7 separate regions of the Homo sapiens genome follow, and regions 2, 3, 4, 5, 6 and 7 are each linked to region 1. The links come from fine-mapping of genetic effects on gene expression. A gene starts in region 1. Each other region holds a variant in brackets. All regions are shown on one strand. Distances are between the middles of the regions. Region 1 holds the start of RAB11FIP4 (RAB11 family interacting protein 4). Region 2 overlaps RAB11FIP4 (RAB11 family interacting protein 4). Region 3 overlaps RAB11FIP4 (RAB11 family interacting protein 4). Region 4 overlaps RAB11FIP4 (RAB11 family interacting protein 4). Region 5 overlaps RAB11FIP4 (RAB11 family interacting protein 4). Region 6 overlaps RAB11FIP4 (RAB11 family interacting protein 4). Region 7 overlaps RAB11FIP4 (RAB11 family interacting protein 4).

Region 1 (4,064 bases):
GTCTTCCAGCTCCCCTGTCCCCAGTTAGGGGGCATTCAATGCCAGGCTGAGCGCGGAGAGCCATTTCTGCAGCCCCCACCAGGGGGCAGCCCCAGCTCCTGGCCATCTCCTTTCTGTGCTGAGCCCCTTGGGTGAGAGAAAATGGCACGAGCTGACCTTGGACGAACTAATATCGGGGTCCCAGGGGCAGGCAGCAGCCCCCAGCTTCCACTCCCTACCTCCTTGCCAGGGGGCTGGCTGGATCTCCAGCAGCCAGTCTCTCCCAGCCAGCTGCTTGTCCTTATTCTCCACTTCCACCTCCATTTTGCAGGGTAGGTCGGGGGAAAGCAGCATTGCTTAGATTCGCTCTCATCTTCAGTTGCCCTAAAAGGAAGGTACTATTATCCTCACGGTACAGGCGAGGAAACCGGCTAAAATATGCTAGTATCCTGCTGAGCGGCATCCAGCTAGCAGAGACGCTCCTACTCAGCCGAATACCCCTACTCCACTCCCACGGCCTCCCCTTTCCCGCTTTCTCACATTTCGGACTCCTCAATCCTCAGAACCACAGGTCTCTCTTCCCAAGAGGTGTTGCCTTTCGTGGCTCTCAGACGAACTGAAGGGTCAAAGGAGAGTAGCTAAAAGCCAGGTTCATCCCAGGAGCCGGGGCTGGAAAGAAGAGGTCCCCGCCCACTGTCAGAAGGCAAATGGCAGTCCCTGCGCAGGATATATTCAGGGTTGAGCAGGAAGACCACAGAGGTACAAACCGAGGCCCAGCTAGGGGAGGCCATGCAGTTCACCCCGTACTCCCTGTCTGCGCCACTACGTTGCTCCCGGCTCCTCACATAATGGGCGGGCCCATCCCCTCTGGGTGGGGCTTCCTCTGGGCCCACTCTTGCCTGGAGATCAGGGACTTGAAGGTAATTAAGACATATCTTGCCCTGGAGGGCTTCCCAGCATGGTAGGGGAAATGGGCATCCCACTAGAGAATTAAGAATTAACTGGGCACCTGGAAGAAGGGCTTAGAACTCAGAATAGAAGATAAGATGGCGTGCCATCAGAGAAGCCTTCCCGGAGGAGGAAACCTCTGTGCTGAGCATGACAGCATAGGTGGGAGTAGACTCAGCCAAGGCCTTTTTTTGGGTTGGGGCCAGTCGTTGCCACAAAGACCTGATGTGCCGAGCAAGAAGGTGGAGAGAAGAGCCCGGCCGGGTCCTGCAGGGCCCCGAGGCTGGGCTGGGAAGTTAGCACAAGCTGGGGTGGAGGCTCCGCTGAGCACTAATGGGAGGAGGCCAGGGTCCTGACCTAGAGCCTGCGGCCAGCGGGACAGAGATTCTGTCCTGGATTCTCTGAGCTTGGGGCATGCGGGCTGCCAGGGAGGTGTGATGGTGGGAACCCGGCGAAAGGGAGGAAGCCTCTTCCAGGCGTGGAGCAGCCTTGGGCCCTGAACAGGCAGGCCTCTGGAAGCGCCTCGCTTTTCCTCCCTCCGGCCTCATCCTGGTTTTCTCCTCATCTCCCCGTCGCAGGGTCCCGGGTCCAGGCTGGGGTTCAGTTGCCTGCTCCTCCTCTCTGTGCCCTCCCCCGCCCGATGGCCCCACAAGTGCTGTCTTGCAGGAGAGCGCCGGGAGACCGCAGGGCGGAGGTGAAGAACGGAGTCCAGAGCCCTCCAGAGATGGCAGCGAATCCCGGCCCTGCCTCTTGCCAGCTGTGTGGCCTAGAGTGAGTCCGACCTCTCTGGGCCTCAGCTTCCTCCGGGATGAATGCAGTCACGGAACGCGCCAATGCAGGAGGCCCCCAGGACATCCTGAGCGCTCGGGAGACGCCAGGCGCGGCAGCGGGCACGGATAGCGGAAAGGGGCGCGACCCCGCGGAATCCTCCGGCAGGGCAGGGCCTTTGGGTGGCTCCGGGTGTCCAGAGGAAGGGGTGGGCTCGGGGACGCGGAGGGAAACTGGGGACGCGGAGGGAAACTGAGGTCGCGGAGGACGCGGCCGTTGGCAGCTCGCTGCGCCTGCCGGCCCCGCGTGGGCCGCCCCACTCGGGAGGACGCGGGCTCCTTTTGTCTGCAGCGTCCCCGCCGCCGCCGCCCCCGCCGCCTCCCCCTCTCCCTCCCATTTTCGCCGCGGCCCCCGCCCCTCCCCTCCCCGCCCCCTATTGCCCCTCCTCCTTCCCCTCCCCACTCTTCTCCTTCCCTCCCCTCCCCTCCCTTCCCCTCCGGAGCGGCTGGGGCTGCGGCGCCGCTGCTGACACGGATCGGCCGCGGCCGCCACCGGGCGGAGGCTGCGCGGCGCAGACCCAGACGGGCGGCCCCGGAGGGCGCGCGGCGATGGCGGCGGCGGGCAGGCGGCGGGCGCGGCGGGCGAGGGGTCCGGGCTGAGCTGCGGGCCGGCCCGGATGGCGGGCGGCGCGGGCTGGTCGGGCGCCCCCGCGGCTCTGCTGCGCTCCGTGCGCCGCCTGCGCGAGGTGTTCGAGGTGTGCGGCCGCGACCCCGACGGCTTCCTGCGCGTGGAGCGCGTCGCGGCGCTCGGACTGCGCTTCGGCCAGGGCGAGGAGGTAAGCTGGCCCGACCCCAGTCCCGGCCCGGGGACCCCAGCCCAGCCCCGCCGCCCCTCCCCCAGCTCCCCCGCCGGGTCACCCGCGTGGCCCGAGGCGGTGGCCTCCCTCCCAATCCCCTCCCTCCGCCGGAGCCCAGGACCTCGGCCCCCCCCGGGTATCCCTGGCCCAGCCGGGCCCTCGCTTTCCGCCCCCCGGCGCCCGTGCCCCGAGCGTCACGCGTCACGCCTAGGGTGGCTTCTGCGCCCACCTTCCTTCCTCGGCCATGCAGGTCCTTCTGAGCGGTCTGCACATCCACCCTTGTCTGGGGGAGAGAGCTGCCAGAATCCGGCCCTAGGCTCCCCACCCCACCCGGCGCTGCGGAGACCAAGATGCAAGGGTCTGTGTACGTCCTGCTGGGCCGGGCCAGGGGGTGAAAGGGACCGGTAGGGGTGCTCTGCAGCCTTGGCTCCTCGGCTGCACACACCCTGCCCAGACACGGAAGGAGGTGTCTGCTGGGGCCACCGTGTACTCCCGGGCCAGTGTCGGGTGACCTCTCATTCAGGCTCTGCTGGGCAGCCAGGCTGGCAGCTGGCTGTGTTGGTTGCAGCAGGCCAGGCAAAGCCAGGCTCGGGGAGTGGTGGCTGAGCAGAGGGCTTTCATGTGGCGGGGCCGCATCTATTTGGGGAAAGCAGGACTTACGTAGATTGTTAACAGGGCTGGAAGCGGAGGGTCGGTGCCGCCAGTAGGGTGGACGGAGTCATATCACTAAACGCACACTACACCAGTGTCCTCTGGTGCCACCGGCATGGGGACTGGGGACTGTGTCTCAAGGGGAGGACAAGACACCCACCTGGCTGAAATGGTCAGGGGTTTCCCCTGGAGCCAAAAGCCCTGAGAAGTGGGTTTCCAAGGCCATCTAAGGCCTCAGGCCCTGCATGGGGGGCCTGGGGCCATGGGCCTCAAATGGGCACTGGCTGGCATTGTGTTCCCAGAACAGGTCGGACCAGGCATTTCAGAACATGGGAGAAGCTGGGTGATGGCCAGGTTGGGCCCGTGCCTCTGCGTCACCAGAGAGTGGGAGGCGATTGAGAATCATCTCTCCACCCGCACCTGGGCATGGGCCGGGACTTGTGAGTCGCTGAGAGCTGTGGGCAGAAGAGAGTGAGGCAGCTTCAGGGCTTGAGAACTCAGGTACCCACCACAGGAAAGACCACTGCAGTGCCTGTGAGAGCCCAGACTGCCCTCTGCGGGGCTTTGCTGAGGGACACTGCCTGCTGCCACCATGACCCTTCTTCCCCAAAGGCCAGCCAAGCCCTTCCGTTTTTCCAGTGGCTCCCATCTGGGGCAGGCTGAGCAGACTCCTGGCATGGGGATAGTCGCGCTCCTTCCTCTCAGAACACAGACTGCAGGTCGGGTAAAGAAGCTACCAGCTCTGGCTGAAACCTGGAGTCCCCGAACTCAGAGCCTCAGTAGTGGGAAGGGCCTCCCAACAACCTCTGGCAGGGGCCACCGGCCTCAGCCACGTGCCCAGCAAGCCTCACCCACTTCTCCC
Region 2 (4,064 bases), 59 kb after region 1:
ACCTGTCTCGGCCTCCCAAAATGCTAGGATTACAGGTGTAAGCCACCGCGCCCTGCGGGAAAGACTTTTTAAATTGTTTTGCTTTAGAGGCTGCTCTTTCGAGTCCCACTTCTACTGTAGACCCATGTCCATCTTCTGCTGTGGGGCCGCTTTATGTAAGGTATTACTGTTATTGCTATTTTGTTTTCCTTTTCTTTTTTTTAAGAAACAAAGTCTTGCTCTGTTACTCAGGCTGGAGTGCAGTCACTGCAGCCTCAACCTCCCAGGCTCAAGCAATCCTCCCACCTCAGCCTCCTCAGTAGCTGGGACCACAGGCTCATACCACCACATCCAGCTAATTTTTTTTTTTTTTTTTTTGGCAGAGACCGGGTCTAGCTATGTTGCCCAGGATGGTCTCAAACTCCTGGCCTCAAGCAAGTCTCCCAGCTGGGCCTCCCAAGGCACTGGGATTACAGTCATGAGCAACCTCTCCTAGCCCTGTTTTCTTGTAATAAAGTAAATGCAGTGTTCATTTTAGTAACAAAACAGGTCTTCACTGGGAGGGAGAAATGAGGAAATTTGACCCCGCGTGGCTGAGGCCTGGAATGAGCTCCATGGGCAGGCTCCAGGAATGATGTAATTTTGCCTCCTCTCAAGGCTGGCCTCAAGGAGGCCTGATTCCAGCCCTCTTTGTCTGGGGCTGCCCTGAACCTGTAAGAATCCTTCTGACCAGATCCTCCAGACACTGCAAATTCTCACCCAGGTTGCTCAGAATCCTGGAAAGAGCTCAGGTTTGAGTCAAACGGGCTGAGTGTGGGTTCTGCTTGACCACTTTCTGTGTGTCATTTGGCAAGTCGCTTCACCTCTCTGAGCCTTTTTCATTTCTGCCTATCTAAAATCAGAGTCGTCAGCCTGATTTTCAGTGTTGTGGTGAGAATGCAATGGATTAATGTTTCTAAAGGTTCCTGAGGAGACAGGTCCCCCAGTCAGTAGTACCTATGCCTGCATTCTCTGTACCACTCAGAACCCTCAGGGGAATCATTCAGGACACAGGGGACAGAATTCCCTCCCCTTCCCATTCCCAAAGTCACCAGCCTGCCTCCACCTGCACCCACACTTTCAGCTTGCTGCTGGGATGGTGAGTGGCATGACCCTGCTCTGACACAGGCCATGCCCTCCAATCCCAGCTCCTCACCCGCACACCGCCTGAACACTGGATCCCAGCCCCTCCTGCCAACTCAAGCACTCGCCTTCACAAACAGCCCCTCACCCACAGCACCCGCACCACGCCCCTGCTGGGTCCTTTCCATTCGCTTCTGGAGCTGACATAATAATGCCCTTCCCATGGGCAGGGAAGCACCCGCTTGACCACACATCCTGGCTTTCTTTCCTTTGGTCTATTTCCTCCAAAGACTGGTCTCAACTCCCTTTCTTGCCTCCCTTTCTCTCTGTTGCCACTCCCAATGATGTCTTGGCCCCTCTGTTCTGCTGAAACACTTCTCACAGTCACCAGGGACTTCTTTTTGAGACAGGGGTCTCACTCTGTCACCCAGGCTGGAGTGCAGTGGTGCAGTCCTGACTCACTGCAGCCTCCAACACCTGGGTTCAAGCAATCCTCCCACCTCAGTCTCCCAGGTAGCTGGGACCACAGGCATCTGCCATCATCCCCAGCTATTTTTATTTTTTGTAGAGATGGGGGTCTTGTTCTGTTCCCCAGGCTGGAGTGCAGTAGTGCAGTCCTAGTTTGCTGCAGCCTCAAACTCCTGGCCTCAAGCAATCCTCCAATCTCAGACCCCCAAAGTGCTGGTATGGCAGGCATGAGCCACCTTGCCTGGCCACCAGGAACTTCTCACTGGCCAAATCCAAGCATCAGTTCTCTAGTCACATTTTTACATAGTGATGGTGTGTGGTGAATAGATCAGGGTAATTAGCATATCCACCATCTCCGGCATTTATCATTTCTTCATTTTGGGAACACTCGATAGTCTCCTAGCTACTGAAAACTCT[G/A]TATTATTGTTAATGATAGTCATCTTACAGTGATGTAGAACAATGGAACTTATCCCTCCTCTAGAACTGTAACTCTGTACTTTTAACAAACGTCTCCCTACTCTCCTTCCCCTGCCATTCTCAGCCTCTAGTGTCCTCTGCTCCATTCACATTTTACTGGAACCCTGGGCAGGGCCTGGCACAGCCAACCTCTCCCTTCTCAGATCGTCCTTTTAGCTCAAGCCTTCCTCCTACCTCTCAGGCTGCTTTTCTCCCCGCACACCACCCCCCCGCCACCGGCTTTATTATTATTATTATTATTATTATTATTATTATTATTATTGAGACAGAGTCTCCCTCTGTCACCCAGGTTGGAGTGCAGTGGCGTGATCTCAGCTCACTGCAACCTCCGCCTCCGGGGTTCAAGCGATTCTCCTGCCTCAGCCTCCCAAGTAGCTGGGATTATAGGACGGCGCCATCACACCCGGCTAATTTGCATATTTTTGGTAGAGATGGGGTTTCACCATGTTGCCCAGGCTGGTCTCGATCTCCTGGCCTCAAGTGATCTGTCCACCTCAGCCTTGCCCGCCCTCCTCCTGGGTCCCTTTAAATGGCGCTGGGTCTCAGGCCTCGTCCTCACCCCTATGCTTCCTGCCTGCCCACTCCCCAGGGGAGCTGGTTGGTCCCAGAACTCTAAAAGCACCATTACCCTGAGGGCTCCCAAGATAGTATTTTCCCCTCCGACATTGCCTTCGGCTCCAGTCTCTTCTGTCAAACCTGTGGCGCACCCTCTGCATTTCCACCATGTTCCAGGCTACACCCTTTGATCTGATCCAGCTCCGTCCCCTCAGCCCCAAGAATGTTTCCCCAGGCTCCCCATCTCAGTAAATGGCACCACCTCCCCTACCTGGTCACTCTGACCAAGGATCAAGTCATCCTTAATTTCTTTCCTCCTTCCACATCCAACCCATCATCACAGCCTAATGGTTTTACCTCCAAACTATGTCCCGAGCCATCCACTTCCCTCCACCTTGGAGGTTACACCCCAGTCCCAGCAGAGCCGCACCCTGTACCTGTGCCCCGATGGCCTGCATTCTCTCTTGTTTTTTGTGGTCCATATGACACCGGAGTGTTCTTTAAAACTTGTAACTCCTAGTGGCTGGGCATGGTGGCTCACACCTATAATCCCAGCACTTTTGGAGGCTGAGGCAGGTGGATCACCTGAGGTCAGGAGTTCGAGACCAGCTTGGCCAACATGGTGAAACCCCGTCTCTACTAAGAATACAAAAATTAGCTGGCCATGGTGGCAGGCGCCTGTAATCCCAGCTACTCAGGAGGCTGAGGCAGAAGAATCACTTAAACCCGGGAGGCGGAGGTTGCAGTGAGCCGAGATGGCGCCACTACACTCCAGCCTGGGCAACAGAGCGAGACTCCATCTCAAAAAAAAAAAAAAAAAAAAAAATTGTAAGTCCCATCCTCCTCTCCCTTGCATAAGAGCCTCCAGTGACAAAATCCAAAACCCTGACTTCCCACTGTGGCCTCGAAGGTTTCACTTTTGCCTGAATCTTTGACCTTGCCCCTCCCAGATTCCCGGTGACTCTCACTGTTCAGCCACCCTGACCTGTTTTCTGTTCCTCAAACTGCCCAAGCGAGTTCTGCACAGGGCCTTTGCCTGGCTTCCCCTTCACCTAGAACCCTTGTCCCCCAAATCTTTGCACAGCTGCCCTTGTGCCCTTCAGGTTTCAGCACAAATGTCACCTCCTCAGAGAAGCCTTCCCCCACCACCCTCTCAAGAAACTCCCTCCCCACCCTGCCCCCATCACTGCCAGAGCACCCTGCTTATTTCCTTGAGTATGCACCACTGTTAGCTGCATGTTTTTTTAATGGCTGTGTAATAGTGATACATGTTTTTGGGATACATGTGATATTTCGATAACTGCATATGTTGTGTAATGATCAAATCAGGGTAACTGGGATATCCATTACCTCAAACCTTTGTCTTTGTGTTGGGAACATTACAATTCTTCTAGCTTTTTGAAAGATACAAGAAATTATTAACTATAATTTCCCTGCTGTACTAGCAAATACTAGAACTTATT
Region 3 (4,064 bases), 130 kb after region 1:
CATGACCGTTCTCAGATACACAGTGGTTTGGAGGTCCTGCTCATGAACCTCATGGCGTCGAGGTTCTCGGTTCTGTGGCCTCAGAGGTCTTCTCCACCCCACCCCGGCCCCCTGCTGCAGGTAAGCTTCCTGGAAAAGAAGGTGACAGAGCTGGAGAATGACAGCCTGACCAATGGGGACCTGAAGAGCAAGCTGAAGCAAGAGAACACACAGCTGGTGCACAGGTCAAGCAGGCAGCGGCGCTGGGGGCTCGGCCGTGACGCTGGGGAACAAAGGGGGGTCCATCTTGCTAAGACCTCCAGGAGGAGGCAGCCTCATGCCTTTGCAGCTCTGAGGGTCTGTGACGCATCAGCCTCTTGTCACATGGCCCTGCCCACATGTGGTGCCCAGGACAGGACCTTAGGGACAGGGAGACAGGTTGGAGCTTGACCTTGGCTCTAGGCCCAATGGATTCTACCCCCTGAGGTCTGAAGCCACAGGGCTGGTCCAAGATGGGAGTGGGGATCCACTGTGTCTCACTCATACAGTGACAGGAGCCTGACGTCCCTTCCTAGGGACAAGCTCTGCAGGGGACAGGCCAGTGTGAGCTGGGCGGTGGGAAGGGTCCAGCACTGCTGCTGATGGAGGTCCCCTGAGCCTGCCGTTCCTGATGCTGTCTGCAGTGGTGGATTCAGGGTTTAGTTGTCCTCACCAGATGGCATGACCCTTGGGGGACATACCCTGGCCAGGGGTCCGGTCCTCCAACTTGTCACAGGGCCCAAAGATGGGCCCTTTTGTACACCCCAGAAGGTCAGCCTGGTGGAGGGGCTGTTGCCAGTGAGACGTATCCCAGACCGAAATACCAACCAGGCTGTCACTGGGGTGCTCACATCTACGTGCCCCTGGCCCTGTCCCAGGTCTGGGGCAGACTTCAGGCCACCAGCCAGGATGTGCCTATTTTGGGAGTCAAGGTGCCCAATAAGCTGAATTATTAATCAGAGGGGTGGCCGGGAAGGAACAGCACAAAAAGAAGAGGTGAGGCCTGAGGTGGTTCCGGCCAGGTGTGGCTGCAGGGACTGGTGGGGGCGGTCCCTCCCTGTGCTGCCCTGAGCGCCCCACCTTCTGACTGCCAGGCCTGCCCCTCCATGGCATGTGTGACCGACACCCCCTCTATATGTGCGGTGTCCCCGTTCATCTCTCTGAAAGCTACTGGCCCACACGCCCTCAGTGGACATGCCAGTGACTCAGGGTCTCGGGGCCCAGGGTCCCCCGTGCCACAGCCTGGGTTGGGGTGAAATGGTGCAGGCCCCAAGAGCTTGCCCATTGCGCTGTCCTCAGGGTGCATGAGCTGGAGGAGATGGTGAAGGATCAGGAGACCACGGCCGAGCAGGCTCTGGAGGAGGAGGCGCGGCGCCACCGCGAGGCCTACGGCAAGCTGGAGAGGGAGAAGGCTACCGAGGTGGAGCTGCTCAATGCCAGGTGGGCCCCTCCACCGAGCCCCCTCCCTCAGAGGGACCCCCTGTCCTGGGGCAGCCCTGTGGGATAGGCGCTATCCCCATTTTATAGATGGGAATGTGAGGCTGAGGGGCAGCCTCTTGAGACTTTCCAGTAGTAACAGTTCCACTTTAATACCACGAGAAACACAGAGGCATGCTCTTCAGGAAGTTCGCTAAGGAATGTTCCCAGGAGCGTGGCTCACATTTGGTAATGCAAACCACACAAATGTCTGTCAGAGAAAAGGGCCTGGGCTGGGTCTCACATCCAGGCCTGGAGCGCCCCCTGCTGTCAGGTTCTCCCCTGACCCCTGGTGGACTGAGCCAGAGCCCCAGGGCCAAGGTAAATGGAAAACCCGGCTCCTGTGCCTTGCGTGTACCTGTGGCTTCGTCATTGGAACGTGACGCAGGCGGGACAAGGAGCAGCCCCGGGCCAGGGATCTGAGTTGGTCTCCCATTAGCTCCATGGCCTTGGACGTACTGGGTCACCTCCCTGTGTGCCCCACAGAGCGGCTGTGTGGGTGGGTGAGCCGATGTAAGTCCAGACCCTGCCCACGGGTGAGGGCTATGATGATGC[C/T]TCTGTGATGAAGCCCCTTTGCGGCCCTTGACCGAGGCCGAGGAGGCCGCCTGGGCTTCTGGCAGAGAGGACAGCTGCCCTGGCACTCCTCAGGCCCCCTGAGGCCCCAGTCTCCATGCTGAGGCTTCCCAGAGTTGCCGAGCCCCACCTGGCGGCTGGTGGGCTGCTGAGCAAATGACTGGGAGTTGGGCTCTCAGGCAGGTACCTCCCTGCCCCCGTGTCCCTGCCCCTGTGCAGTTTGGTGAGGAGACTTCCCAACTCCCCGGTGTCTGAGACCTGCTTTGCTAAGTTACCCACCAGGGGTTCATTTTACATTTTGACTCTATTCTAGAAGCTGCTGTTTTGCATCTGTTTCTGGAGGCTGGTGCCTAGTTAAGGGTGACTGCTCTCGCTCAGCCCGCCTCGGCAGCTGGCCCAAGAGAGGTGGCTGGGACACGGGAGGTGGTAAAAGACAGTGTGAACCTGGGCCACAGGACAAAGTGCAGAAAGCCAGCCCTCGGGAACTGTCTCCTAACGTGTGCCCGTCACACAGCTCCGGGGGCGCCATTCGTGTAAAATATCCGAGTGGTGTTCCCAGAGTCCTGCCGTATGCTTGGTTCCCTACCACTTCCACCCGCTTGGGGCCACCTGCTGGTGGTGGGGCTGAATTCCTCTCTGGAGCCCAGAGGGCAGTGGAGGCCCAGAAGCCATCCTTCCAGGAAAGAGGACATGATGGGGAGGTGGTGGGTTGAGAACGGGATGCTCTGCAGGAGTCACTGCCAGAAGTGACCCTGTTCAGTTCTGCTGCCACCGACGGCCCAACTCACCTGCACCTATTCTCAGACCATTTAAAACTGACCTGAGGCCGGGCACAGTGGCTCACGCCTATAATCCCAGCACTTTCGGAGGCCGAGGCAGGTGGATCACGAGGTCAGGAGATGGAGACCATCCTGGCCAACATGGTGAAACCCCATCTCTACTAAAAATACAAAAATTAGCCAGGCGTGGTGGTGCGCGCCTGTAGTCCCAGCTGCTCGGGAGGCTGAGGCAGGAGAATCGCTTGAACCCGGGAGGCAGAGGTTGCAGTGAGCTGAGGTCACGCCACTGAGACTCCGTCTCAAAACAGACAAACAAACAAAAAACTGACCTGAACACCCAGGCTCTGTCTTCTTGTGGAATCCCTTTAGGATTCCCTTTGTGGAATTCCTGTGTGAACGCTAACACAGAGGATTATTACTGTCAGAGCCCATGCCTGTGGTCATCAGAGGGAGGTGCAGTGAGCGCTCAGAGAAGAGCCCTGGATGAGATGCTGTTGGCGGAGAATGAAAAGCCAATATGATCATTGCCTTCAAGTTACAGAGTCTAACAGGAGGGCCCAGTCACAGAAGCCACAAGAAGACTGTTTCTCCATCTAGCAGAAAGACATCCCCGTGTTGTCTGAGGATCTGAAGGATGCATACAAGAAGAATCTGCGTTCCTACTCTCTAATGAATGTTTCCACTTATTGGAAAAATAAAGGCCACGTGTGGTGGCTCACTCTTGTAATCCCAACACTTTGGGAGGCCAAGGTGGGCGGATCACATGAGGCCAGGAGTTTTTGAGACCAGCCTGGCCAACATGGCAAAACCCGTCTCTACTAAAAATACACAAATTAGCTAGGCGTGGTGGTGCATGCCTCTAATCCCAGCTATTCAGGAGGCTGAGGCACGAGAATTGCTGAAGGAGTTAGAGGTTGCAGAGCTGAGATTGTGCCACCTCACTCCAGCCTGGGCAACAGAGCAGGACTCTGTCTCAAAAAAAAAAGAAAGAAAATAAGAATGATAATTTACTATTTTGCTTACAAATAGTCCTTACTATTTTGCTTTGGCTGATAGGAAGCTCACGGCTAAATTGTCTTTGACATAATAATCATATTCTTTCTCTCAGTTGGTTTCTGGTATCTTTCCTCTGGGAGGAAGCAGAGAATCACTGCAGACTGGCAGGCGCTTATCAGATAGTCTACATTCCAGGTTTCTGAGATTTGTCTTTCTCCTTTC
Region 4 (4,064 bases), 100 kb after region 1:
CCCACACTGGGTGGCAGGCTGCAGAGAAGGTGCCCCCAGAAGCCTGGACTGCACCCTTATCTGTTTTCATTTGGAGCTATTTTCTCATTATCTCATGCCAAGTGTCTGACTACACATGGCAGTCCTTCCCCAAGTGTTTGCAGCTTCATCATAATACTGTTAATTGAATGGAATTTGTCATTGGCCAGCTTCTGTGGACCCCATTCAAGGCTGAGTGGATGCTGGGGGCGCCCAGCTGGCCTTGCTCAGAGGGGTCCCGAGCGTCTTGGTGCTTCAGGAGCTGAGCCCCCCTCAAGAGCATTGATGACAAGAGCTCAGATTCTCAGAACCCCCCTGAGCACCCAGACAACCTTGGTGGTTACTTCTTCACTTTTTCGCATGACCTGGAAAGGAGATGAGACGGGGAGGAGAACATAGGCAACCAGAAGGACGTGCAGCCTACAAGGGTCGTATGAAGGTCAGAGGGGTGGCTGTGATGGCCCAGAGCTGTGGGGTCTGAGTGACCTCCAGCCCAGAACCGCCCAGCAGGCCAGTGCTAGTCATGCCAGCACTTCCAAACCCACTTCTTGACTGACCTTAAGAAATGGGAAGTTTTCCAACTGTTGGTCACATTTTTAATTGATCTAACCTGCTTCATCTTCCCAGACAAGTGGGTTCTTTCCCAACAATGTAAACATTAATTCAGATGAAAACAAAGCTCTGTAGAAGTTATTAATATCTGTGGCTCTGCTCATGGGAGCCTTTCTCTTTTGAGGTACCAGAAAGAGGAAGGCCTAAACAGAACTGGAGTGTGGGAGAGTGGGCGGGCTCTCTCTCTTTAGTCATCTGTGGTCACCCCCCACCCCCCTGCGCTGTGCAAGCCTGATACCATGGAAAGGGAACCCACATTTCAAATAGCTGCTGCTGCTCCGGTGAACTTGGGGTAAGGGAGCTGAGGGGTGTCTACCCTCTGCACCAGACTCAAGTCTCCCTCCTAGAATAGGAGCGAGAATAGCAGCAAGTCCCTGCCCCCTGCTCCCTCGTTTTCCTGGAAGAAATGCCTACCTAAGACACAGACACCTGCATCCCACGCTTTGTCACCCAATGCCTGTTTCCTTAAGGAGAAAAAATGGGCGCCAGAAAACTTCTAGGTCTAGATCCTGGCTCTGTTGCTCGCTAGTTGTGGAACTTTGGACAGGCGACCTCACCCTTCTGATTTCACTTTCCCTGGCCTCACTCTTCACTCCCTCTGCCTGTGGGCAGGCAGCAGCATGGTTCTGTGGGGTCCTAAGGACCCCAGGGAGTCACTCCCACATTTGGGCAGCAGCTTTGGGTTTAGTCTGTCCAGTTTAGGGCCCCAGATCGTATATGTGTGTGTGCACACACGTGTGTGTTTGCGTGTCAGGCAGCATTCAGATGGGGCATCCTGTTCATCCACCCCCCTGCTTTGGGGTGGCTGAGGGTTGGGGTGCCCAACAGGTAGAATGGGGTTGATAATAGCACCTGCCTCGCAGGGTGATGGTGAAAATAAAATGAGCCATGGTGATTTAAGATGCCCAGTCTAGGTTCTGGCCTTTACTTAGTTGACACTCGTGGACGGTTAGATGGTTAGAGAGGCAGGCCAGTTTAGTACCAAAATGCCTTCAGAGTCAGGCTGTCTCTGGGTTCAGATCCTGGCTCTGCCCCTTGCTATTGGTGGAATCTTAGACAAGTTATTTAATTTCTCTGTGCCTCAGCTTCCCCACCTGTAAAACGAGGATGAGGCTAGTACCTCCCTCACAGGGTTCGTGGTAAGAGGATGAGGCTAGTACCTCCCTCACAGGGTTCGTGGTAAGGCTCAAATATGTAAATGTATGAAAAGCACTTAAAACTGTGCTTTGGGGTGAGCTGTTATTCTTAGTTCCTGCAGGCTTCAGCTGGTTTGATTGTTGTGACTAATAACCTTCGCACCTAACAGAATGTCTTGCCGGGGAGTGTCATGGCCCAAACAGGAAGGTGGCAGCGGAAAAACTCCATTACTCAAGGGCCTTTGCAAGAGAAGCAAAACTCTACTTC[C/G]TCAGCTTCTGTGGGTTTTTAAATCTTTTTTTTCAATTTTAATTTTAATTTTTTTAAAAAAAAAGTAGAAATGAGGTGTTACTATGTTACCCAGGCTGATCTCGAATTCCTGCCCTCAGGTGATCCTCCCACCGCGGCCCCCCAAAGTGCTGGGATTACAGGCATGAGCCTCTGCACCCAGCCAGCTTCTGTGTTTTTAACAAACCTTGCTCGGGCTCTGCAGATACAGATTCTGGGTCTGGGGTGAAGTGACTAGCATTTGTGTGGCAGTCTGTGAATGAGATGTCAAGCAGCTTCCGAGGTAACAGACTTCTCCCCAGGTTCAGTGAGGGAGACTGTACCTAGCCTGTCCTTCCAGAGGCTGCTCACACTGCCAGGCTGTGGCTGGCCTGCCAAGGGGAGGATGGCCCTCCACACCTCGGCCCACCTGCCCTTCACCTCCAGCCAGGGCCTGCCTGTCCATCCACCTGTGCCTAGCTGGAAAAGCTGGCTTGGAGCAGTGCTGCCCATCTGCCACTGCCAGCCCCCAGCATCTGCCTTATTAAAATGCTGAGGCTCTGGCTGGCCACAAGCCCCAGGAGATTTGGAGAAAAGCCAGACAAAAAGGTGCAGGCTGTGCCACCGCCCAGCCACACTGGGTGACTGCCCTTGGTAGTTAACCACAGAGTCATCCAGCTTGGCTGCCCAGAGGTCTATAGCTCCACTCAGGCGAAGCTGGCTAGCCTGGCCTAGCCTGGCTGGTTAGGTGGGCAGGACAGCCTCCACTTGACTGATTTTTTTTTTTTTTTTTTTTTTTTTTGAGACAGGGTTTCGCATTTCTGCCCAGGCTAGAGTGCAGCGATACAATCTTGGCTCACTGTAGCCTCGACCTCCTGGGCTCAAGTGATCCTCCCACCTCAGCTGCCTGAGTAGCTGGGTGCACCACCACTCCCGGCTATTTATTCATTTGGTAGAGATGAGGTCTCACTATGTCACCCATGCTGGTCTCAAACTTCTAGGCGCAAGCAATCCTTCCACCTTGGCCTCCCAAAGTGCTGGAATTACAGGCATGAGCCACCATGCTTGACTCGTCTGACTGATGTTAGGCAACCTTGAATTGATGGTCTCCTGGTGAAATGAGGGTTCTTGTTGACAAGGCAGGTCTGGCCAACACATTTTTGTATGATTATCTGCACGATTGCATCAGTTATTAGCAAAGAAGGATTTTATAGCAGCAGGTGTGTGCTCATGTGCTTGTGTGGAGTTGTTGACTGCCCTTCACTGCACACACACAGTCTGCGGAACTGTGACTGAATCCCTGTTCCCTACTCACACTTACATGGTATTTTCTGGGATTCTAAGGCACATTCTTTTTTTCCTTTCCTTTTTTTCCATTTAACATCTTAAATTGGAATGTGTCGCACATTTGCGGATTATTATAATTTGACAGCGCCTTTTTCTTGGCATACTTGAAATAACGGTGCATTGTAAAATCAGAGGTGTCTCAGATTTAATGAAATAGAAACTAGGTAACCTCTGGGGAACTTATATAATTTGTCCAGTTCCTCCAAGGATGCAGGTGGAGCCACCTTGTAGTGGTGGCAGATTATATGAGGGGACCCTGATGTGGTTCAAGGGGACAACCTTGGATTGGGCTTAGATTCCAGCTTTATGGCTCGCCAGCTGTGTGGCCTTGGCAAAGTAGAGCGACCTCTCTGAGCCTCGGGATTTTCCTCCCACCACATATGAATCGTGGCTCCACAGTTGTCATGGCTGTGTGCAAGGCAACATTCCCTGTTTCTCTTGCTGGGTATCATCTAAGGTCTGCCCCGTTCCATCTGGGTTAAGAGGGAAAATGAGGGCTGGGAGTGGGTCACTGGCCTTCCCAAGGGAGCAGAGGGAAACTGGTGTTCCAAGGGCTTCTTGACTCAGTTTATAATCCTTGGACATTACTCTTCTTCCCTCGTCCTTCTCCCCCTTTGCCTGAGTTTTCATTTTCACATGTGTTTCCTTTTAGCAATTTTCTTTCAAATCTCTCCTCTCCCTTTCTG
Region 5 (4,064 bases), 28 kb after region 1:
TTCCCCTCTTTTCCCATCTGTCTTCTATTGTGGCTGCTAAAACAGCATAAAAATGCTGGGGAGTTTCAACTTCACCCTACTCCAAGCCAAGCCCTGAAACCCCTTTTGTGGATATAGACGATGTCAGGTGCCCAGCCAAGCCCAGGTTAGTGCCTGGGGTAGCAGGAATTGCCACTCCGATGCCCATGGGGGCCAGGAAGGAATGCAGCCTAGGTGGGGCTGCGGTGGGGAACTACTTGAGATTTGGGGGTTCCCATAGACAGCTGGGGAGCAGAATACATTCCCTTTCTAAAGAGTGTGCTTGAATTCAGCTGTCGCTCATTGTTGCTGTGGGGGAATATGGGACCTGTATTGCCAGATCTGATTTTTCAAGAAAAGCCAGGGGCTGGGCATGGGGGCTATGCCTGTAATCCCAACACTTTGGGAAGTCAAGGCAGGAGGATCACTTGAGGCCAGGAGTTCAAGACCAACCTGGGCAACATAATGAGACCCCATCTCTACAAAAAATTAGCCAGGTGTAGTGGTGTATGCCTGTACTCCCAGCTACTTGGGAGGCTGAGTTGGGAGGATCCCTTCAACCTGGGAGGTCGAGGCTGCTGTGAGCTATGATCATGCCACTGCACTCCAGCCTGGGTGACAGTGAGACCCTGTCTATAACAAAAATAAAAATAGGCTAGGCGTAGTGGCTCATGCCTGTAATCCCAGCACTTTGGGAGGACAAGGCGGGCGGATCACCTGAGGTCAGGAGTTCGAGACCAGCCTGGCCAACATGGTGAAACCTCGTCTCTACTAAAAATACAAAAATTAGCTGGGTGTGGTGGCAGGCACCTGTAATCCCAGCTACTCAGGAGGCTGAGGCAGCAAAATCGCTTGAACCCGGGAGGCGGAGGTTGCAGTGAGCCGAGATCGCACCATTGCATTCCAGCCTGGGAGACAAGAGTGAGACTTCGTCTCAAAAAAATAAAATAAAATAAATAAAAATAAAAATTTAAAGTCAGATATCCAACTTTGTATGTGCAGTTCCCTTGATTTTTTTTTTTTTTTTTTGAGACAGGGTCTCACTGTGTCACTCAGGCTGGAGTGCAGTGGCACAATCACAGTTCACTGCAGCCTTGACTTCCCGGGCTCAGGTGATTCTCCCGCCTCAGCCTCCGAAGTAGCTGGGACTACAGGCGTGCACCACCACACCTGGCTAATTTTGTTCATTTTTTGCAGAGACAGGGTTTTGCCATGTTGCCCAGGCTGGTCTGGAACTCCTGAGCTCAAGCGATCCTCCTGCCTTGACCCACTCCCAAAGTGCTGGGGTTACAGCTGTGAGCTACCGTGCCCAGCCAGTTCCCTTGATTTTTAAAGAAAAATTTTAAAAAATTGTTTTTACTTTACATACAGTAAAATTCGCTTTTTGGGGGTGGGGGAAGAAGTGTCACTATTTACATAGACTCCTGTGACTCCCACTGCCATCAGGGACAGAACGGCTCATCCCCCAAATTCTCTCCGGCTGCTCCTTTGTCTTCAGTCCCTCCTCCTCGCTCTTGGCACCCACTGATCTGGCTTTGTCACTATGGTTTTGCCTTTTGCACGTAAATGGAATCATACAGTTTGTAACCTTTGGGAGTGGTTTCTTTCCCGTAGCATAATCATTTGTTCTTTTTGGTTAGGGAACACTTGCTTATCCATTCACTTGTTGAGAGACACTGGGGATGTTTCTAGGTTTGGGTGATTATGTGTAATGCTGCTGTGGACATTTTTGTGCAGTTTTGTGTGGGTGTGTGTGAATGTAAGTTTTCATTTCTCTAAGATAAGGAAGGATAAGGAAGTTCCCTTATATTTCTACTTTGTTGAGAGTTTTTTTGTTTTTTTTTTTTGGTATCATGAATGGATGTTAAATTTTGCCACTTGATTTCTCTGCATCTTTTGATAGGTTTTTCTTCTTTGGTCATGTTTAGATTACATCCATTAGTTTTCAAATGTTGGGCCAGCTTTGCTGAATAAACCCCATTCGGCTGCTTGTCTTGTTATATTTTTCATATATATCTCCTGGATTCGATTTGCTAATATTTTGCAGAGGCTCATTGCATCTGTGTTCATGAGGGATATTGGTTTGTAGTTTTCTTTTTTCTTTTTTTTTTTTTTTGAGACTGAGTCTCACTCTGTCGCCCAGGCTAGAGTGCAGTGGGGCGATCTCGGCTCATTGCAAGCTCCGCCTCCCGGGTTCACGCCATTCTCCTGCCTCAGCCTCCCGAGTAGCTGGGACTACAGGCGCCCACCACCATGCCCGGCTAATTTTTTGTATTTTTAGTAGAGACGGGGTTTCACTGTGTTAGCCAGGATGGTCTCGATCTCCTGATCTCATGATCCGCCCACC[T/C]CAGCCTCCCAAAGTGCTGGGATTACAGGCATGAGCCACTGCGCCCAGCAGGTTTGTAGTTTTCTTATATTGCTTTTGTTTGGTTTGGGTAACAGGGTATTATTGCTGGCCCCATAAAACGAGTTGGGAAGTGGCTCTTCTATTCTCTGGAAGAGGTAGTGTAGAATTTATGTATATTTTCCTTAAATACTTAGTGAAATTATCTGGTCCTGAGGTTTTCCTTTTTGGAAGGATATAAATTGGGAAATTAATTTCTTTAATCACTCAAGGACTGTTCAGATTATCTATTTCTTCTTGCATGAGTTTTGGTAGTTTGTGTTTTTCAAAGAATTGGTCCATTAGCTCATCTAAGTTGTAGAAATTATGTGTGTAGAAGTGTTTCTAGTGTTCCCTTATTAGCCTTTTAAAGGATGTAAGACTGTAATGATATCTCTGTTTTCTTTTTTTTCGAGACAAGGTCACACTCTGTCACCCAGGCTAGAGTGCAGTGGTGTAATCAAGGCTCACTGCAGCCTTGACCTCCCTGGCTCAAGCGATCCTCCCACCTCACCCAACCCCGGTAGCTGGGACCAGAGGCATGTGCCACCATGCTTGGCTAATTTTTTTAATCTTTTGTAGAGATGGGGTCTTGCTATGTTGCCCAGGCTGATCTTGAATGCCTGGTCTCAAGCGATCCTCCCACCTTGGCCTCCCAAAGTGCTGGGATGACAGGTGTGAGCCACTGTGCTCAGCCTCATTTTTTATATTGGTGATTTGTATTCTCTCTCTCTTTCTCTCTGTCATTCTGGTTAGAGATGCATCAGTTTTGTTAATCTTTTCAAAAAAAAAACCAGATTTGGGTTTTGTTGATTTTTCTCTACCAGTCTCATTTTTAATTTTATTAATTTCTGCTCTTATCTTTATTATTTCTTTCCTCCCTTTTGCTTTGGGCTTGAATTTTATGGTATTGTATTTTCATTTTCATTTAGTTTAAATTATTTTTATTTTCTCTTGAGACTTTGGGGCTGGGTGCGGTGGCTCATGCCTGTAATCTCAGCACTTTGGGAGGCCGAAGGGGGTGGATCACCTGAGGTCGAGAGTTCAAGCCCAGCCTGACCCATATGAAGAAACCCCATCTCTACTAAAAAATACAAAATTAGCCAGGCATGGTGGTGCATGCCTGTAATCCCAGCTACTCGGGAGGTTGAGGCAGGAGAATTGCTTGAACCCGGGAGGCAGAGGTTGCAGTGAGCCGAGATCACGCCATTGCACTCCAGCCTAGGCAACAAGAGCAAAACTCCATCTCAAACAAACAAACAAACAAAAAGATACTTCATCTTTGACTCATGAATTATTTAGACACATACTGCCTAATTCCCAAGTATTTGAGGATTTTTCAGATGCCTTTCTGTTTTTGATTTTTTTGCTTGTTTTAAAATTTCTTTTCTTTTCTTTTTTTTTGAGACAGTCTCGCTCTGTTGCCCAGGCTGAAGTGCAGTGTGTGATCTCAGCTCACCGAAATCTCCATCTCCCAGGTTCAAGTAATTCTCGTGCTTCAGCCTCTCAAGTAGCTGGGATTATAGGCACAGGACACCATGCCCAGCTAATTTTTGTATTGTTAGTAGAGATGGGGTTTCACCATGTTGCCCAGGCTGGTCTTGAACTCCTGACCTCAAGTGATCCACCTGCCTCAGCCTCCAAAAGCTCTGGGATTACAAAC
Region 6 (4,064 bases), 120 kb after region 1:
AGAGGACCCTGGTGGGGAGAAAGAGGCACTGATGTTTGGAGGGCAGGCTCTGGAACCTGCAGGTCTGGCTTCCTGCAGCCAAAAAAACCCAGCCGAGCTGCAGCCCAGTGAGCCACGGTGGGTAGAGGGAGAGGTCCCAGGGGCTGGATGGGAGCCAGGAGGCCAGGAGGTACCCTGGATTGTTTTCCTTCAACACAATGACGACAATAGTAGTTCAGTTTTGGGGTGTGGTGGTGTGTACCTGTAGTCCTAGCTGCTTGGGAGGCTGAGCTGGGAGGATCACTTGAGTCCTGGGAGTTTGAAGCTGCAGTGAGCTGTGATTGCGCCACTGCATTCCAAGGGTTTTTTTGTTTTTGTTGTTGTTTTTGTGTTTTTGTTTTGTTTTGTTTTGTTTTCTGAGCACTTTCTGTGTGTGCTAAGACCATAAAGTGCTTAGGATGTGTAGCAGCTCATTTAATCCTAATCACAGTTAACTCCATTTTATAGATGGGGAAACTAAGGCACTGAGCAGTTCAGTAACCCTGAAGCTGCAGAGCTCATGAATGGTGAATGGTGGAGCAGGGCTCTGGCCTGGCCGTCTACTCCAGAGCTTGTCCTTAACGCCACCCCGCGCCTCCTTTTGCCGTGTGTTCCGCGCCCTCATGACACAAGGCATTGTCCTAGTTCCCTGTGGCAGCCTGCCAGGCAGGTGGTTCCCTCCCCGTGTTTACATCAGGCCCAGAAATTAAACAGCTGATCCAGCATCAGACAGTCAGGCAGTGACCACACCAGAGTCGGCACCCAGGTCTCAGGGTCCTGTGGCTGTGCTGTTCCCAGCTCATCATACTGCAGTACAGTATGGTTCCACCACCTGCCATGTGCTCTCTACAGTGCTAACCACTGGGGTTCTGACATGTAAATCCCCATAGCTACCCACTTAGGGTCCTTGCTCTCACAGGGAAGGTGGACATGTGGTCACTTGGGGTCCATGTACTCTGTGTGTCAGCTCAGGGAAACGCAGGGTGCTGGCGTGTGCCTGTGAGGTGGCTCCCCATGGGGGAGGTGGGGAGGGAGAGGACCAGATGCTGCATCCGCTCTGAGAGTGTGGACAGTGTGGCATTGTTGGCCACTCTGAGGCTGGGACGGCCCCCACGTGTATTGATACTTGGCCTTTTCAGCAGCCCTGAATTCATCCCTTGCCAACTTCCTACAAAAGAAGGGGTGACTTGGGGCCTGCTGGCAGGCGAACACGGCTCTCAAGACTGGAGAGGGCCCCACGGCAGGCTGTGTGCCTCTAGGTTCCCACTCCCTGCTGGGGACAGGGTGGGACAGTGGGACAGCGAGGTAGGGGTGCAGGGGATGCAGACCTGCCCTGCCAGAGTGGCTGGCTGGATCCTGTTCTCCAGCTCTCTCCAGAATGCCCTGGCCTCAGGTAATTCCTCAGCTTGGCTTCTCTGAGGAGGGTGGGCGTCCCTCCTGGCTGCTCGTCTGTCCAGGACATTGCTGGCTGACCAGCCGGGGACCCATGGCTGTAGGAATAGCTCACCCTCTGTTGCCTGTAGCCCCTCGTGAGGCCAGGTCAGAATTTACGGCTCCTACCGTGACCGACTCTCCGGTGTAAATTGTCACGTGTGGCCCCCTAGAGCTGCCACTGAGGTGGAGTTGACTGGCCCCATTCTGTAGGTGAGGAGCCAGGTGCTCACAAAGGTGGTCACTTGTCCAAGGTCACATGGCTTGTAAGTGGCTGGGCCAGCAGGGCCGGAAACCCAGACTGCTAGGCCCCAGAGCTGAGCCCTCACCCAAGCCCACCCCCAGGGGCCTCCTGGGGCTTCTGGAGGAACACGCTGCTGCATCCGCTCTCTCCCTTCACCCCGGGGTCCGCTGGCAGGTGGAAGAAAGCCTGGGGTGGTGTGGCCATGTACCAGCCAAGCCTGTGGGCCTATGGTGGCTGGCCCTGTGTCCCAGGGTACAGGGAGCTGTGAGCTCAGGGCTGGCTCTGGGTCTTGAGGGACAGAGCCCTGGCAAGTCAGACTGTGCCAGAGACGATGCCCGGTGCTGCCTCCTGAGGATACCACACTGTCCCTTCCCCAAAGGCCCCCAAAAGAGCAGACACAGCCTTTCTGTGCAAACCCTGGGAACACCAGGCCAAGCTCCAGGCCTGGACATGTGTAGGGTCCCTGGGTGGTGACTGGACGGCCGTGTGTGGACTCCTTTTTCACACAGCAGGCGGGAATGGGCAGGAAACCGGGGCTCTGAGAGGCAGTCTTGGAAGCTGCCCTGGGCACAGACCTTACTTGCTGACCCC[G/A]GCCACCTAGAAACATGAGCTCTGGGGAGGCCCTGTCCCTGCCCCACCACTCCTGCCAGCCCTCCAGAGCCAGGCTTGGGTGGGCGCCTCTGTGGTGAGGATGTAGACCGTGCAGCTGGGGTGAGCGGGCAGCTCTCTGGGCATCCTGACGAGCATAGTGCGGTGAGGTGGGGTGATGGTATCCTCTCCCATGACCCCCAGTCTACTTGGAAGTATGCTCAACAGGGGGCTCCGCGTGATTCTTACCTGCAGGCAGCCTGGCCGGAGAGGAACCCACCGCCTCCAGAAGTCTGTGACCCCCAGGCCATCTGGAAACCTTATGAGGGCAATGTTTTTATTATGGCCAAGTTCTTCCTTTTCCTCTGCAACTTTATCTAAAAAACATACAAAAGGGAAATTGGCCAAGAAGAGTCCTAGTATGCTTGACTCCGAGTTCTCCCAGCCCATGAATGGTGGCTCAAGGAGAGAGAAGAGGCTGCGTTCTGGCACCTTCCAGCATCTCCCCTCCAGGCCGGCGGGAGAAGGAGCAAGGGCTTCCACCAGACCCTTCCCCAGAGGGCCGGGGAAACAAGAGCTGGGGCTGGGGACTTTGGCCCTCAGGGAGGAGCAAGGGTGACCATGGCAAATACCAAACCAAGGGGATCTTGGGACAGGCATAAACCAGTACTGTCCTGGGCTAACCAAGGCGTGCAGTAAACTGTCTTTATTATATTTGAATTTAGGGGGCAAACTACTAGAAATGGTTTTAAAGTTATAATTAAAATTTCCGATTGCCTTGGACAAACAACTGTGGGTTGAATGAAAAAGTATTAATGTTGGGAATAGCCATTTTTAAGAGAAAAAGCTGGAGAGAGTGTGTGCGCATGTGTGGCCAGGCAGGTGAGGACTTGGTGTGTCAGCCGGGTGTCAGGTCCCTGCAGGCCCTCTGTGAACTGCAAGGTTCCAGGGCAGCCACTCTCCCACTCTGAGCCTCATCTTCCCCAGGTGTCAGACGGAGCTGATGAATCCCAGATCTCTGCCCTGTCTACCCCAGGCAGCTCGCACGGGGCTGTTGTGAGGGATGGGGTGTGTGAGACAGGCGAGGAGCTTGCTGAAGGGCTGGGCAGATGTGGACTCTGCTTAGTCCAAGGCTGAAAGCCTGCCCGAGGAGGTGGTGGTCTTCTTTGGAGGGTGGGAACCTGGTGCCCCTGCTTCTGCCCTGCCTGTGCCTGAGCCAAGCCATTTGAGGCTGCTCTCTCCACCCGGTCAGGGGCTTGGGCCAGCTGCTGGGAGTATCAGGACGCTGCTGTAGATGTTGGGTGAGAGGGCCCGGTGGTTCCACCTGCATGTCATGAGCCAGGTGTTAGTGGGGCAGTGCCCGGCACACACTCGGCCTCTGTGTCCTCGTGTCAGTGGCCAGAGGCCACGTCAGACACCTGAGGAGCAAGGACGCTGATCTGCACTGGGCCCTCTGCCTGCCTCTGGGAGCTGGTGGGCCATAGCCTCCCCAGGATGTGGCTGTAGGGGGAAGGTGGGTGTTGGGGAAACAGAATCATGTCCGGACCCGGCTGTAAACTCCCACATGGCCCCAGGCAAGACCCTTCACCTACAGAAAGGGGAAAAGAGGCTCAGCTCATCGGGCTGCGGTGAAGTCCAGAAGAAACACCATTGCCAAGTTGCTGAGCTCTCACATGAGCCACAGGGCGGGCATTCCCAGCAAGGGGGAACTCTCGCTACCCGTGTGGCCAGGAAGGTGAAAAGTTTGCAGTTCTTCCTGGCCAGGTGAAAGAACAGACCAGGC
Region 7 (4,064 bases), 93 kb after region 1:
AAGGGAAACACCTTGTTTCCACAGTCCAAGATCCTCTCCTGGGCTGGCACAGAGTTGCAGAATTGGAAGAGACCTAAAGATGTGCTGTCCAGCTAAAAGCTCTTCCAGGGGAGGAGTCTGAGGCCCAAAAAGTTAGGGAGAGCCCAGAACCCAGGCCTCCTGCATCTTCACTGGGTTTGGTGGGAAGAGGCAGAGGAAGGAGTGGTCAGAGAAGATGCCAGCTTAGTGCAGACCCCTAGACACATCCCCACTGGCGAGAGAGGGCTTTTGGATCCAAGAGTCATTCCCATTTTTTTTCTAAATAAAAAATTGGGGGCCAGGTGCGGTGGCTCACGCCTGTAATCCCAGCACTTTGGGAGGCCGAGGCAGGCAGATCACTTGAGGCCAGTTCAAGACTAGCCTGGCCAACATAGCAAAACCCCATCTCTACTAAAAATACAAAAAGTTAGCTAAGTGTGGTGGCATATGCCTGTAATCTCAGTTACTCAGGAGGCGGAGGCACAAGAATCACCTGAACCCAGGAGACAGAGGTTGCAGTGAGCAAAGATCGCACCACTGCACTCCAGCTTGGGCGACAGAGGGAGACTCTAAAAGAAAAAAAAAGAAAAAAAAAAGAAAAGAAAAAAAATTAGGAATGACTTTCCTTTGGGGTCAAGAGGCCTCTGCAGTCTCAGAGTCCTGCCTATTTGCTTGGTAGTCCCTTCCCTAAGCCACTGCTTAAGTCATCAAATACTGAATTTACCACCTGGGATGAAAGCTGAGATTTAAGAGTTGTAGCTGAACTTCCTGAGCGTGGAGTCAATGGACCTCTGAGAGAGAGGTGAGAGAGGACAAGTACTTGTGGTAAAGTCCTAGCCAGCTGCCAGGGGGGCTTTTCCACACATAGAGCCCCAGCTGGGCAGAAATAATGTCCTCTGGCCGGGGGCAGTGGCTCACACCCATAATCCCAGCACTTTGGGAGGCCGAGGCGGGCGGATCACGGGATCAGGAGTTCGAGGCTATCCTGACCAACATGGTGAAACCCCGTCTCTACTAAAAATACAAAAATTAGCCAGGCGTGGTGTCATGCGCCTATAGTCCCAGCTACTCAGGAGGCTGAGGCAGGAGAATCGCTTGAACCCTGGAGGCGGAGTTTGCAGTGAGCCGAGATCATGCCATTGCATTCCAGCCCGGGTGACAGAGTGAGACTGCATCTCAAAAAAAAAAAAAAAAAAAAAAAAAAAAGTAAAGAAAGAATGTCCTCTGTGTGTGCGTTGACAGAATCAAGCCCTGCTAAGATGGACCAGGTTTGACTGATGCTCACAGTCCTGATTAATGACTGGTGTCCACCTTGGAGAGCACTAGACTGAGAGTAATGCAACCTGGCTCTACTCCTGGCTCCACCACTAACTGAGTGTGCTACTTGTGAGGGGAGATGCCATTTCCCACCTCTGGGGCTCATTCCCCTGTCTGGGAAATGGTTATACTATACCAGTGATTTTAAATATTTTTAAAGCCATAGAACCCTTTATTCACATGAAGTTTCATACAGAAGACAGCATGTACAGCAGACAGAAGTGGAGCTATTTTTGTGGTTCCCCTGGAGCACATCTTCCCTTTTGCGAAG[T/G]CTCCACAGAACCCTGAGGGTTCCAACAAACTCAGTTTGAGAACAACTTGCCAGACTTTTTGTTTTAGCTCCAATACTATTTATGTCAGCTGTTGTTTGTTCACTTGGCTAATATTGGTTGGCATCAGTTGCTTGGCTAATGTTAACATTAGGTAATGTTCAGAAGGGTTCTTTTCTCAAAATAATGATCATGAAACCATATATATATATATTTAGCCAGTCGTTCCACATGGCCCCAAACATGTGCAGAATGTTGCTTCTTTACACCATCCAATGTTGAGCTAACTCTTGCATGGTGGCAGCGAAAGAAAATAGACACAGAGAGGCCAGGCATGGTGGCTCATGCCTGTAATCCCAGCATTTTGGGAAGCTGAGGTGGGGGGATTGCTTGAGCCCAGGAGTTTGAGGCTACAGTGAGCTATGATTGTGCCACGGCACTTCAGCCTAGGCAACAGAGCAAGATCTTATCTTTTTTTTTTTTTTTTTTTGAGACAGTCTTCCTCTGTCACCTAGGCTGGAGTGCAGTGGCACAATCTTGGCTCACTGCAACCTCCACCTCTCAGGTTCAAGTGATTCTCCTGCCTCAGCCTCCAGAGTGTCTGGGATTACAAGCGCTCGCCACTACACCCAGCTAATTTTTGTATTTTTAGCAGAGACAGGGTTTCGTCACGTTGGCCAGGCTGGTCTCGAATTCCTGACCTCAGGTGATCTGCCCGCCTCGGCCTCCCAAAGTGCTGGGATTACAGGAGTGAGCCACTGCGCCGGGCCTGACATTGTCTCTTTAAAAAAAAAAAGGAACCTCACAGGTAATGCTAAGAGACCAGGGTACCTAACTCAAGACCTTCCTTCCCCACATCCTCATAGGTGGTGCTATGCTCAGAAGGCAGGATTATATTTCCTATTAACTCACTCTTAGCCCCCGTTTGAACCAAGGACACTGAATCCTAGCCTGTGTTAGAGCCCTCAGATCCCATATTCATCCTGTGTCTAATCTCACCCATCAGATACAGTCACCATCCCCACCCCACCCCCCACTGGACTATCATTGCTTCTCTGAACCCTGCTGGAAAGTGTTAGCCCTTCCCTCAAAAGTCAGGGTCCTAAATTTTCCCTCAGGCTGCCTCTAATCCTCACCTCTGTTCCCCTCAGCCTCTTGCCATAATGATCATTAGTAATAGCTACTGTTTATTGGTTACCTGCTCTGTGCCAGGCTCTGTTCTATGTATTTTACTGGTCCTGATTATTTTGATCCTCACAATAGTTCTAAAATACATACTATTATTATCTCCAATTTAAAGATGAGGAAATTGAGACACTGGGACTTAAACTTGCCTACGTTCATTTAGCAACAAGGTGGTAAAGCCAAGATATGGCCCTTGGCCCCGGCACCCATGCACAGAACCAGTGCGTCAGACTGCAGCTCACTCATGCTGCTGGTAGTGACTAGGAACTGCCATTTATTGAGCACCTGCAGCATCTTAGGCATTGCACTAGACACTTTATCATTTCATTGAAACTTCACAACTGCAAGAGGAAATGTCTTATTTCCATTTTCTAGAGGTAGAGACTGAGGCTCCAAAACATTGACTTCCCTTGATAAGTGGAACCGGGCAGGCTTCAAACCCAGGAGTGTTCAATGCATCTGTGGCCTTTCTCTGTCACTCTGCTTTTAAGGACAAGTACCTGCAGACATTCCCCACTCCACTACCTTTGAGAAAAATAAAGAAGGACCTACTGATACCACCCGTTCCATAGAGCTCTTGAGAAATGTCGCTCAGGCTGCCCATGGTGGGGACAGGGAGGGGGCTTGACAGGCCTGACTTTCTCCATTGACCTTCTCTGGGAGAGAGTCACGACCAGAGAAGGGATGATCACCCTTGGTTTCTGCTTTTCTTTCTTGGTTCTGGACGATCCTGTCATGTGACCTGCTTTGAGCCTAATAATCCTTAGGGGCAACATCGGACTTGGAAGGGAAGAAGGGAAACCAAGATAGAACCCCTGGACTCAGCCACATCCTAAAACCTTTTGGGACACTGCTGAGCTTAAGGTCTCAGGGTGGAGATGGGAAGGCAGATAGAGTGGGCCCAGGGTGCATGGGCTCAATCGCATACCACACCTTTGAGGAGTGCCTAAAATTAAGTGTAGTCACTGTGCTAGGGTGTACAACATCCTGTGAGGTACCATTCCCATCTTACAGATGAAGACATTGAGTCTTAGAGAAGTAACAGAACTTGTCCCAAGACATCTGGGAAATAAGACTCAATTCAAACCCAAGTCTGTTTGATTTCAAAGCCAGTGGTATGATACACCACATAGGTACTCTTATTTTTTTTTTAAATAGAGACAGGGTCAGCCAGGCGCAGTGGCTCACGCCTGTAATCCTAGCACTTTGGGAGGCCAAGGCGGGCAGATCATGAGGTTAGGAGTTCAAGACCAGCCTGGCCAATATGGTGAAACC

The links. PIP is the estimated chance that this variant, and not a neighbour inherited with it, causes the effect.
Region 2: its variant is fine-mapped to the expression of RAB11FIP4 in whole blood (TOPMed, PIP above 0.99).
Region 3: its variant is fine-mapped to the expression of RAB11FIP4 in whole blood (TOPMed, PIP above 0.99).
Region 4: its variant is fine-mapped to the expression of RAB11FIP4 in whole blood (INTERVAL, PIP above 0.99). The same link has a PIP of 0.9 or more in CD4 T cells, lung, monocytes and neutrophils.
Region 5: its variant is fine-mapped to the expression of RAB11FIP4 in whole blood (TOPMed, PIP above 0.99).
Region 6: its variant is fine-mapped to the expression of RAB11FIP4 in whole blood (TOPMed, PIP above 0.99).
Region 7: its variant is fine-mapped to the expression of RAB11FIP4 in whole blood (TOPMed, PIP above 0.99). The same link has a PIP of 0.9 or more in T cells, blood mononuclear cells and monocytes.

The regions. Positions count from the first base shown.
Region 1 is chr17:31,389,482-31,393,545 of GRCh38, forward strand. RAB11FIP4 (RAB11 family interacting protein 4) reads left to right here and starts at 2,194. Exons shown (of 15, transcript NM_032932.6): 1 at 2,194-2,530. The coding sequence starts at 2,372. RefSeq lists an enhancer at 1,409-1,998.
Region 2 is chr17:31,448,055-31,452,118 of GRCh38, forward strand. The region is part of intron 3 of RAB11FIP4 (RAB11 family interacting protein 4); the gene reads left to right. Among named protein-coding and RNA genes, the nearest start is that of RAB11FIP4, 58 kb to the left of the region's middle. The variant G/A (reference allele first, on the strand shown) is at 1,987.
Region 3 is chr17:31,523,773-31,527,836 of GRCh38, forward strand. It overlaps RAB11FIP4 (RAB11 family interacting protein 4), which reads left to right. Exons shown (of 15, transcript NM_032932.6): 9 at 121-224; 10 at 1,318-1,458. Among named protein-coding and RNA genes, the nearest start is that of MIR4724, 9.1 kb to the right of the region's middle. RefSeq lists enhancers at 624-1,238, 1,619-1,913, 1,854-2,468. The variant C/T (reference allele first, on the strand shown) is at 2,050.
Region 4 is chr17:31,492,560-31,496,623 of GRCh38, forward strand. All of the region lies in intron 3 of RAB11FIP4 (RAB11 family interacting protein 4), which reads left to right. Among named protein-coding and RNA genes, the nearest start is that of MIR4724, 40 kb to the right of the region's middle. The variant C/G (reference allele first, on the strand shown) is at 2,035.
Region 5 is chr17:31,417,435-31,421,498 of GRCh38, forward strand. The region is part of intron 1 of RAB11FIP4 (RAB11 family interacting protein 4); the gene reads left to right. Among named protein-coding and RNA genes, the nearest start is that of RAB11FIP4, 28 kb to the left of the region's middle. RefSeq lists an enhancer at 1-34. The variant T/C (reference allele first, on the strand shown) is at 2,366.
Region 6 is chr17:31,510,655-31,514,718 of GRCh38, forward strand. All of the region lies in intron 3 of RAB11FIP4 (RAB11 family interacting protein 4), which reads left to right. Among named protein-coding and RNA genes, the nearest start is that of MIR4724, 22 kb to the right of the region's middle. The variant G/A (reference allele first, on the strand shown) is at 2,285.
Region 7 is chr17:31,481,997-31,486,060 of GRCh38, forward strand. The region is part of intron 3 of RAB11FIP4 (RAB11 family interacting protein 4); the gene reads left to right. Among named protein-coding and RNA genes, the nearest start is that of MIR4724, 51 kb to the right of the region's middle. The variant T/G (reference allele first, on the strand shown) is at 1,607.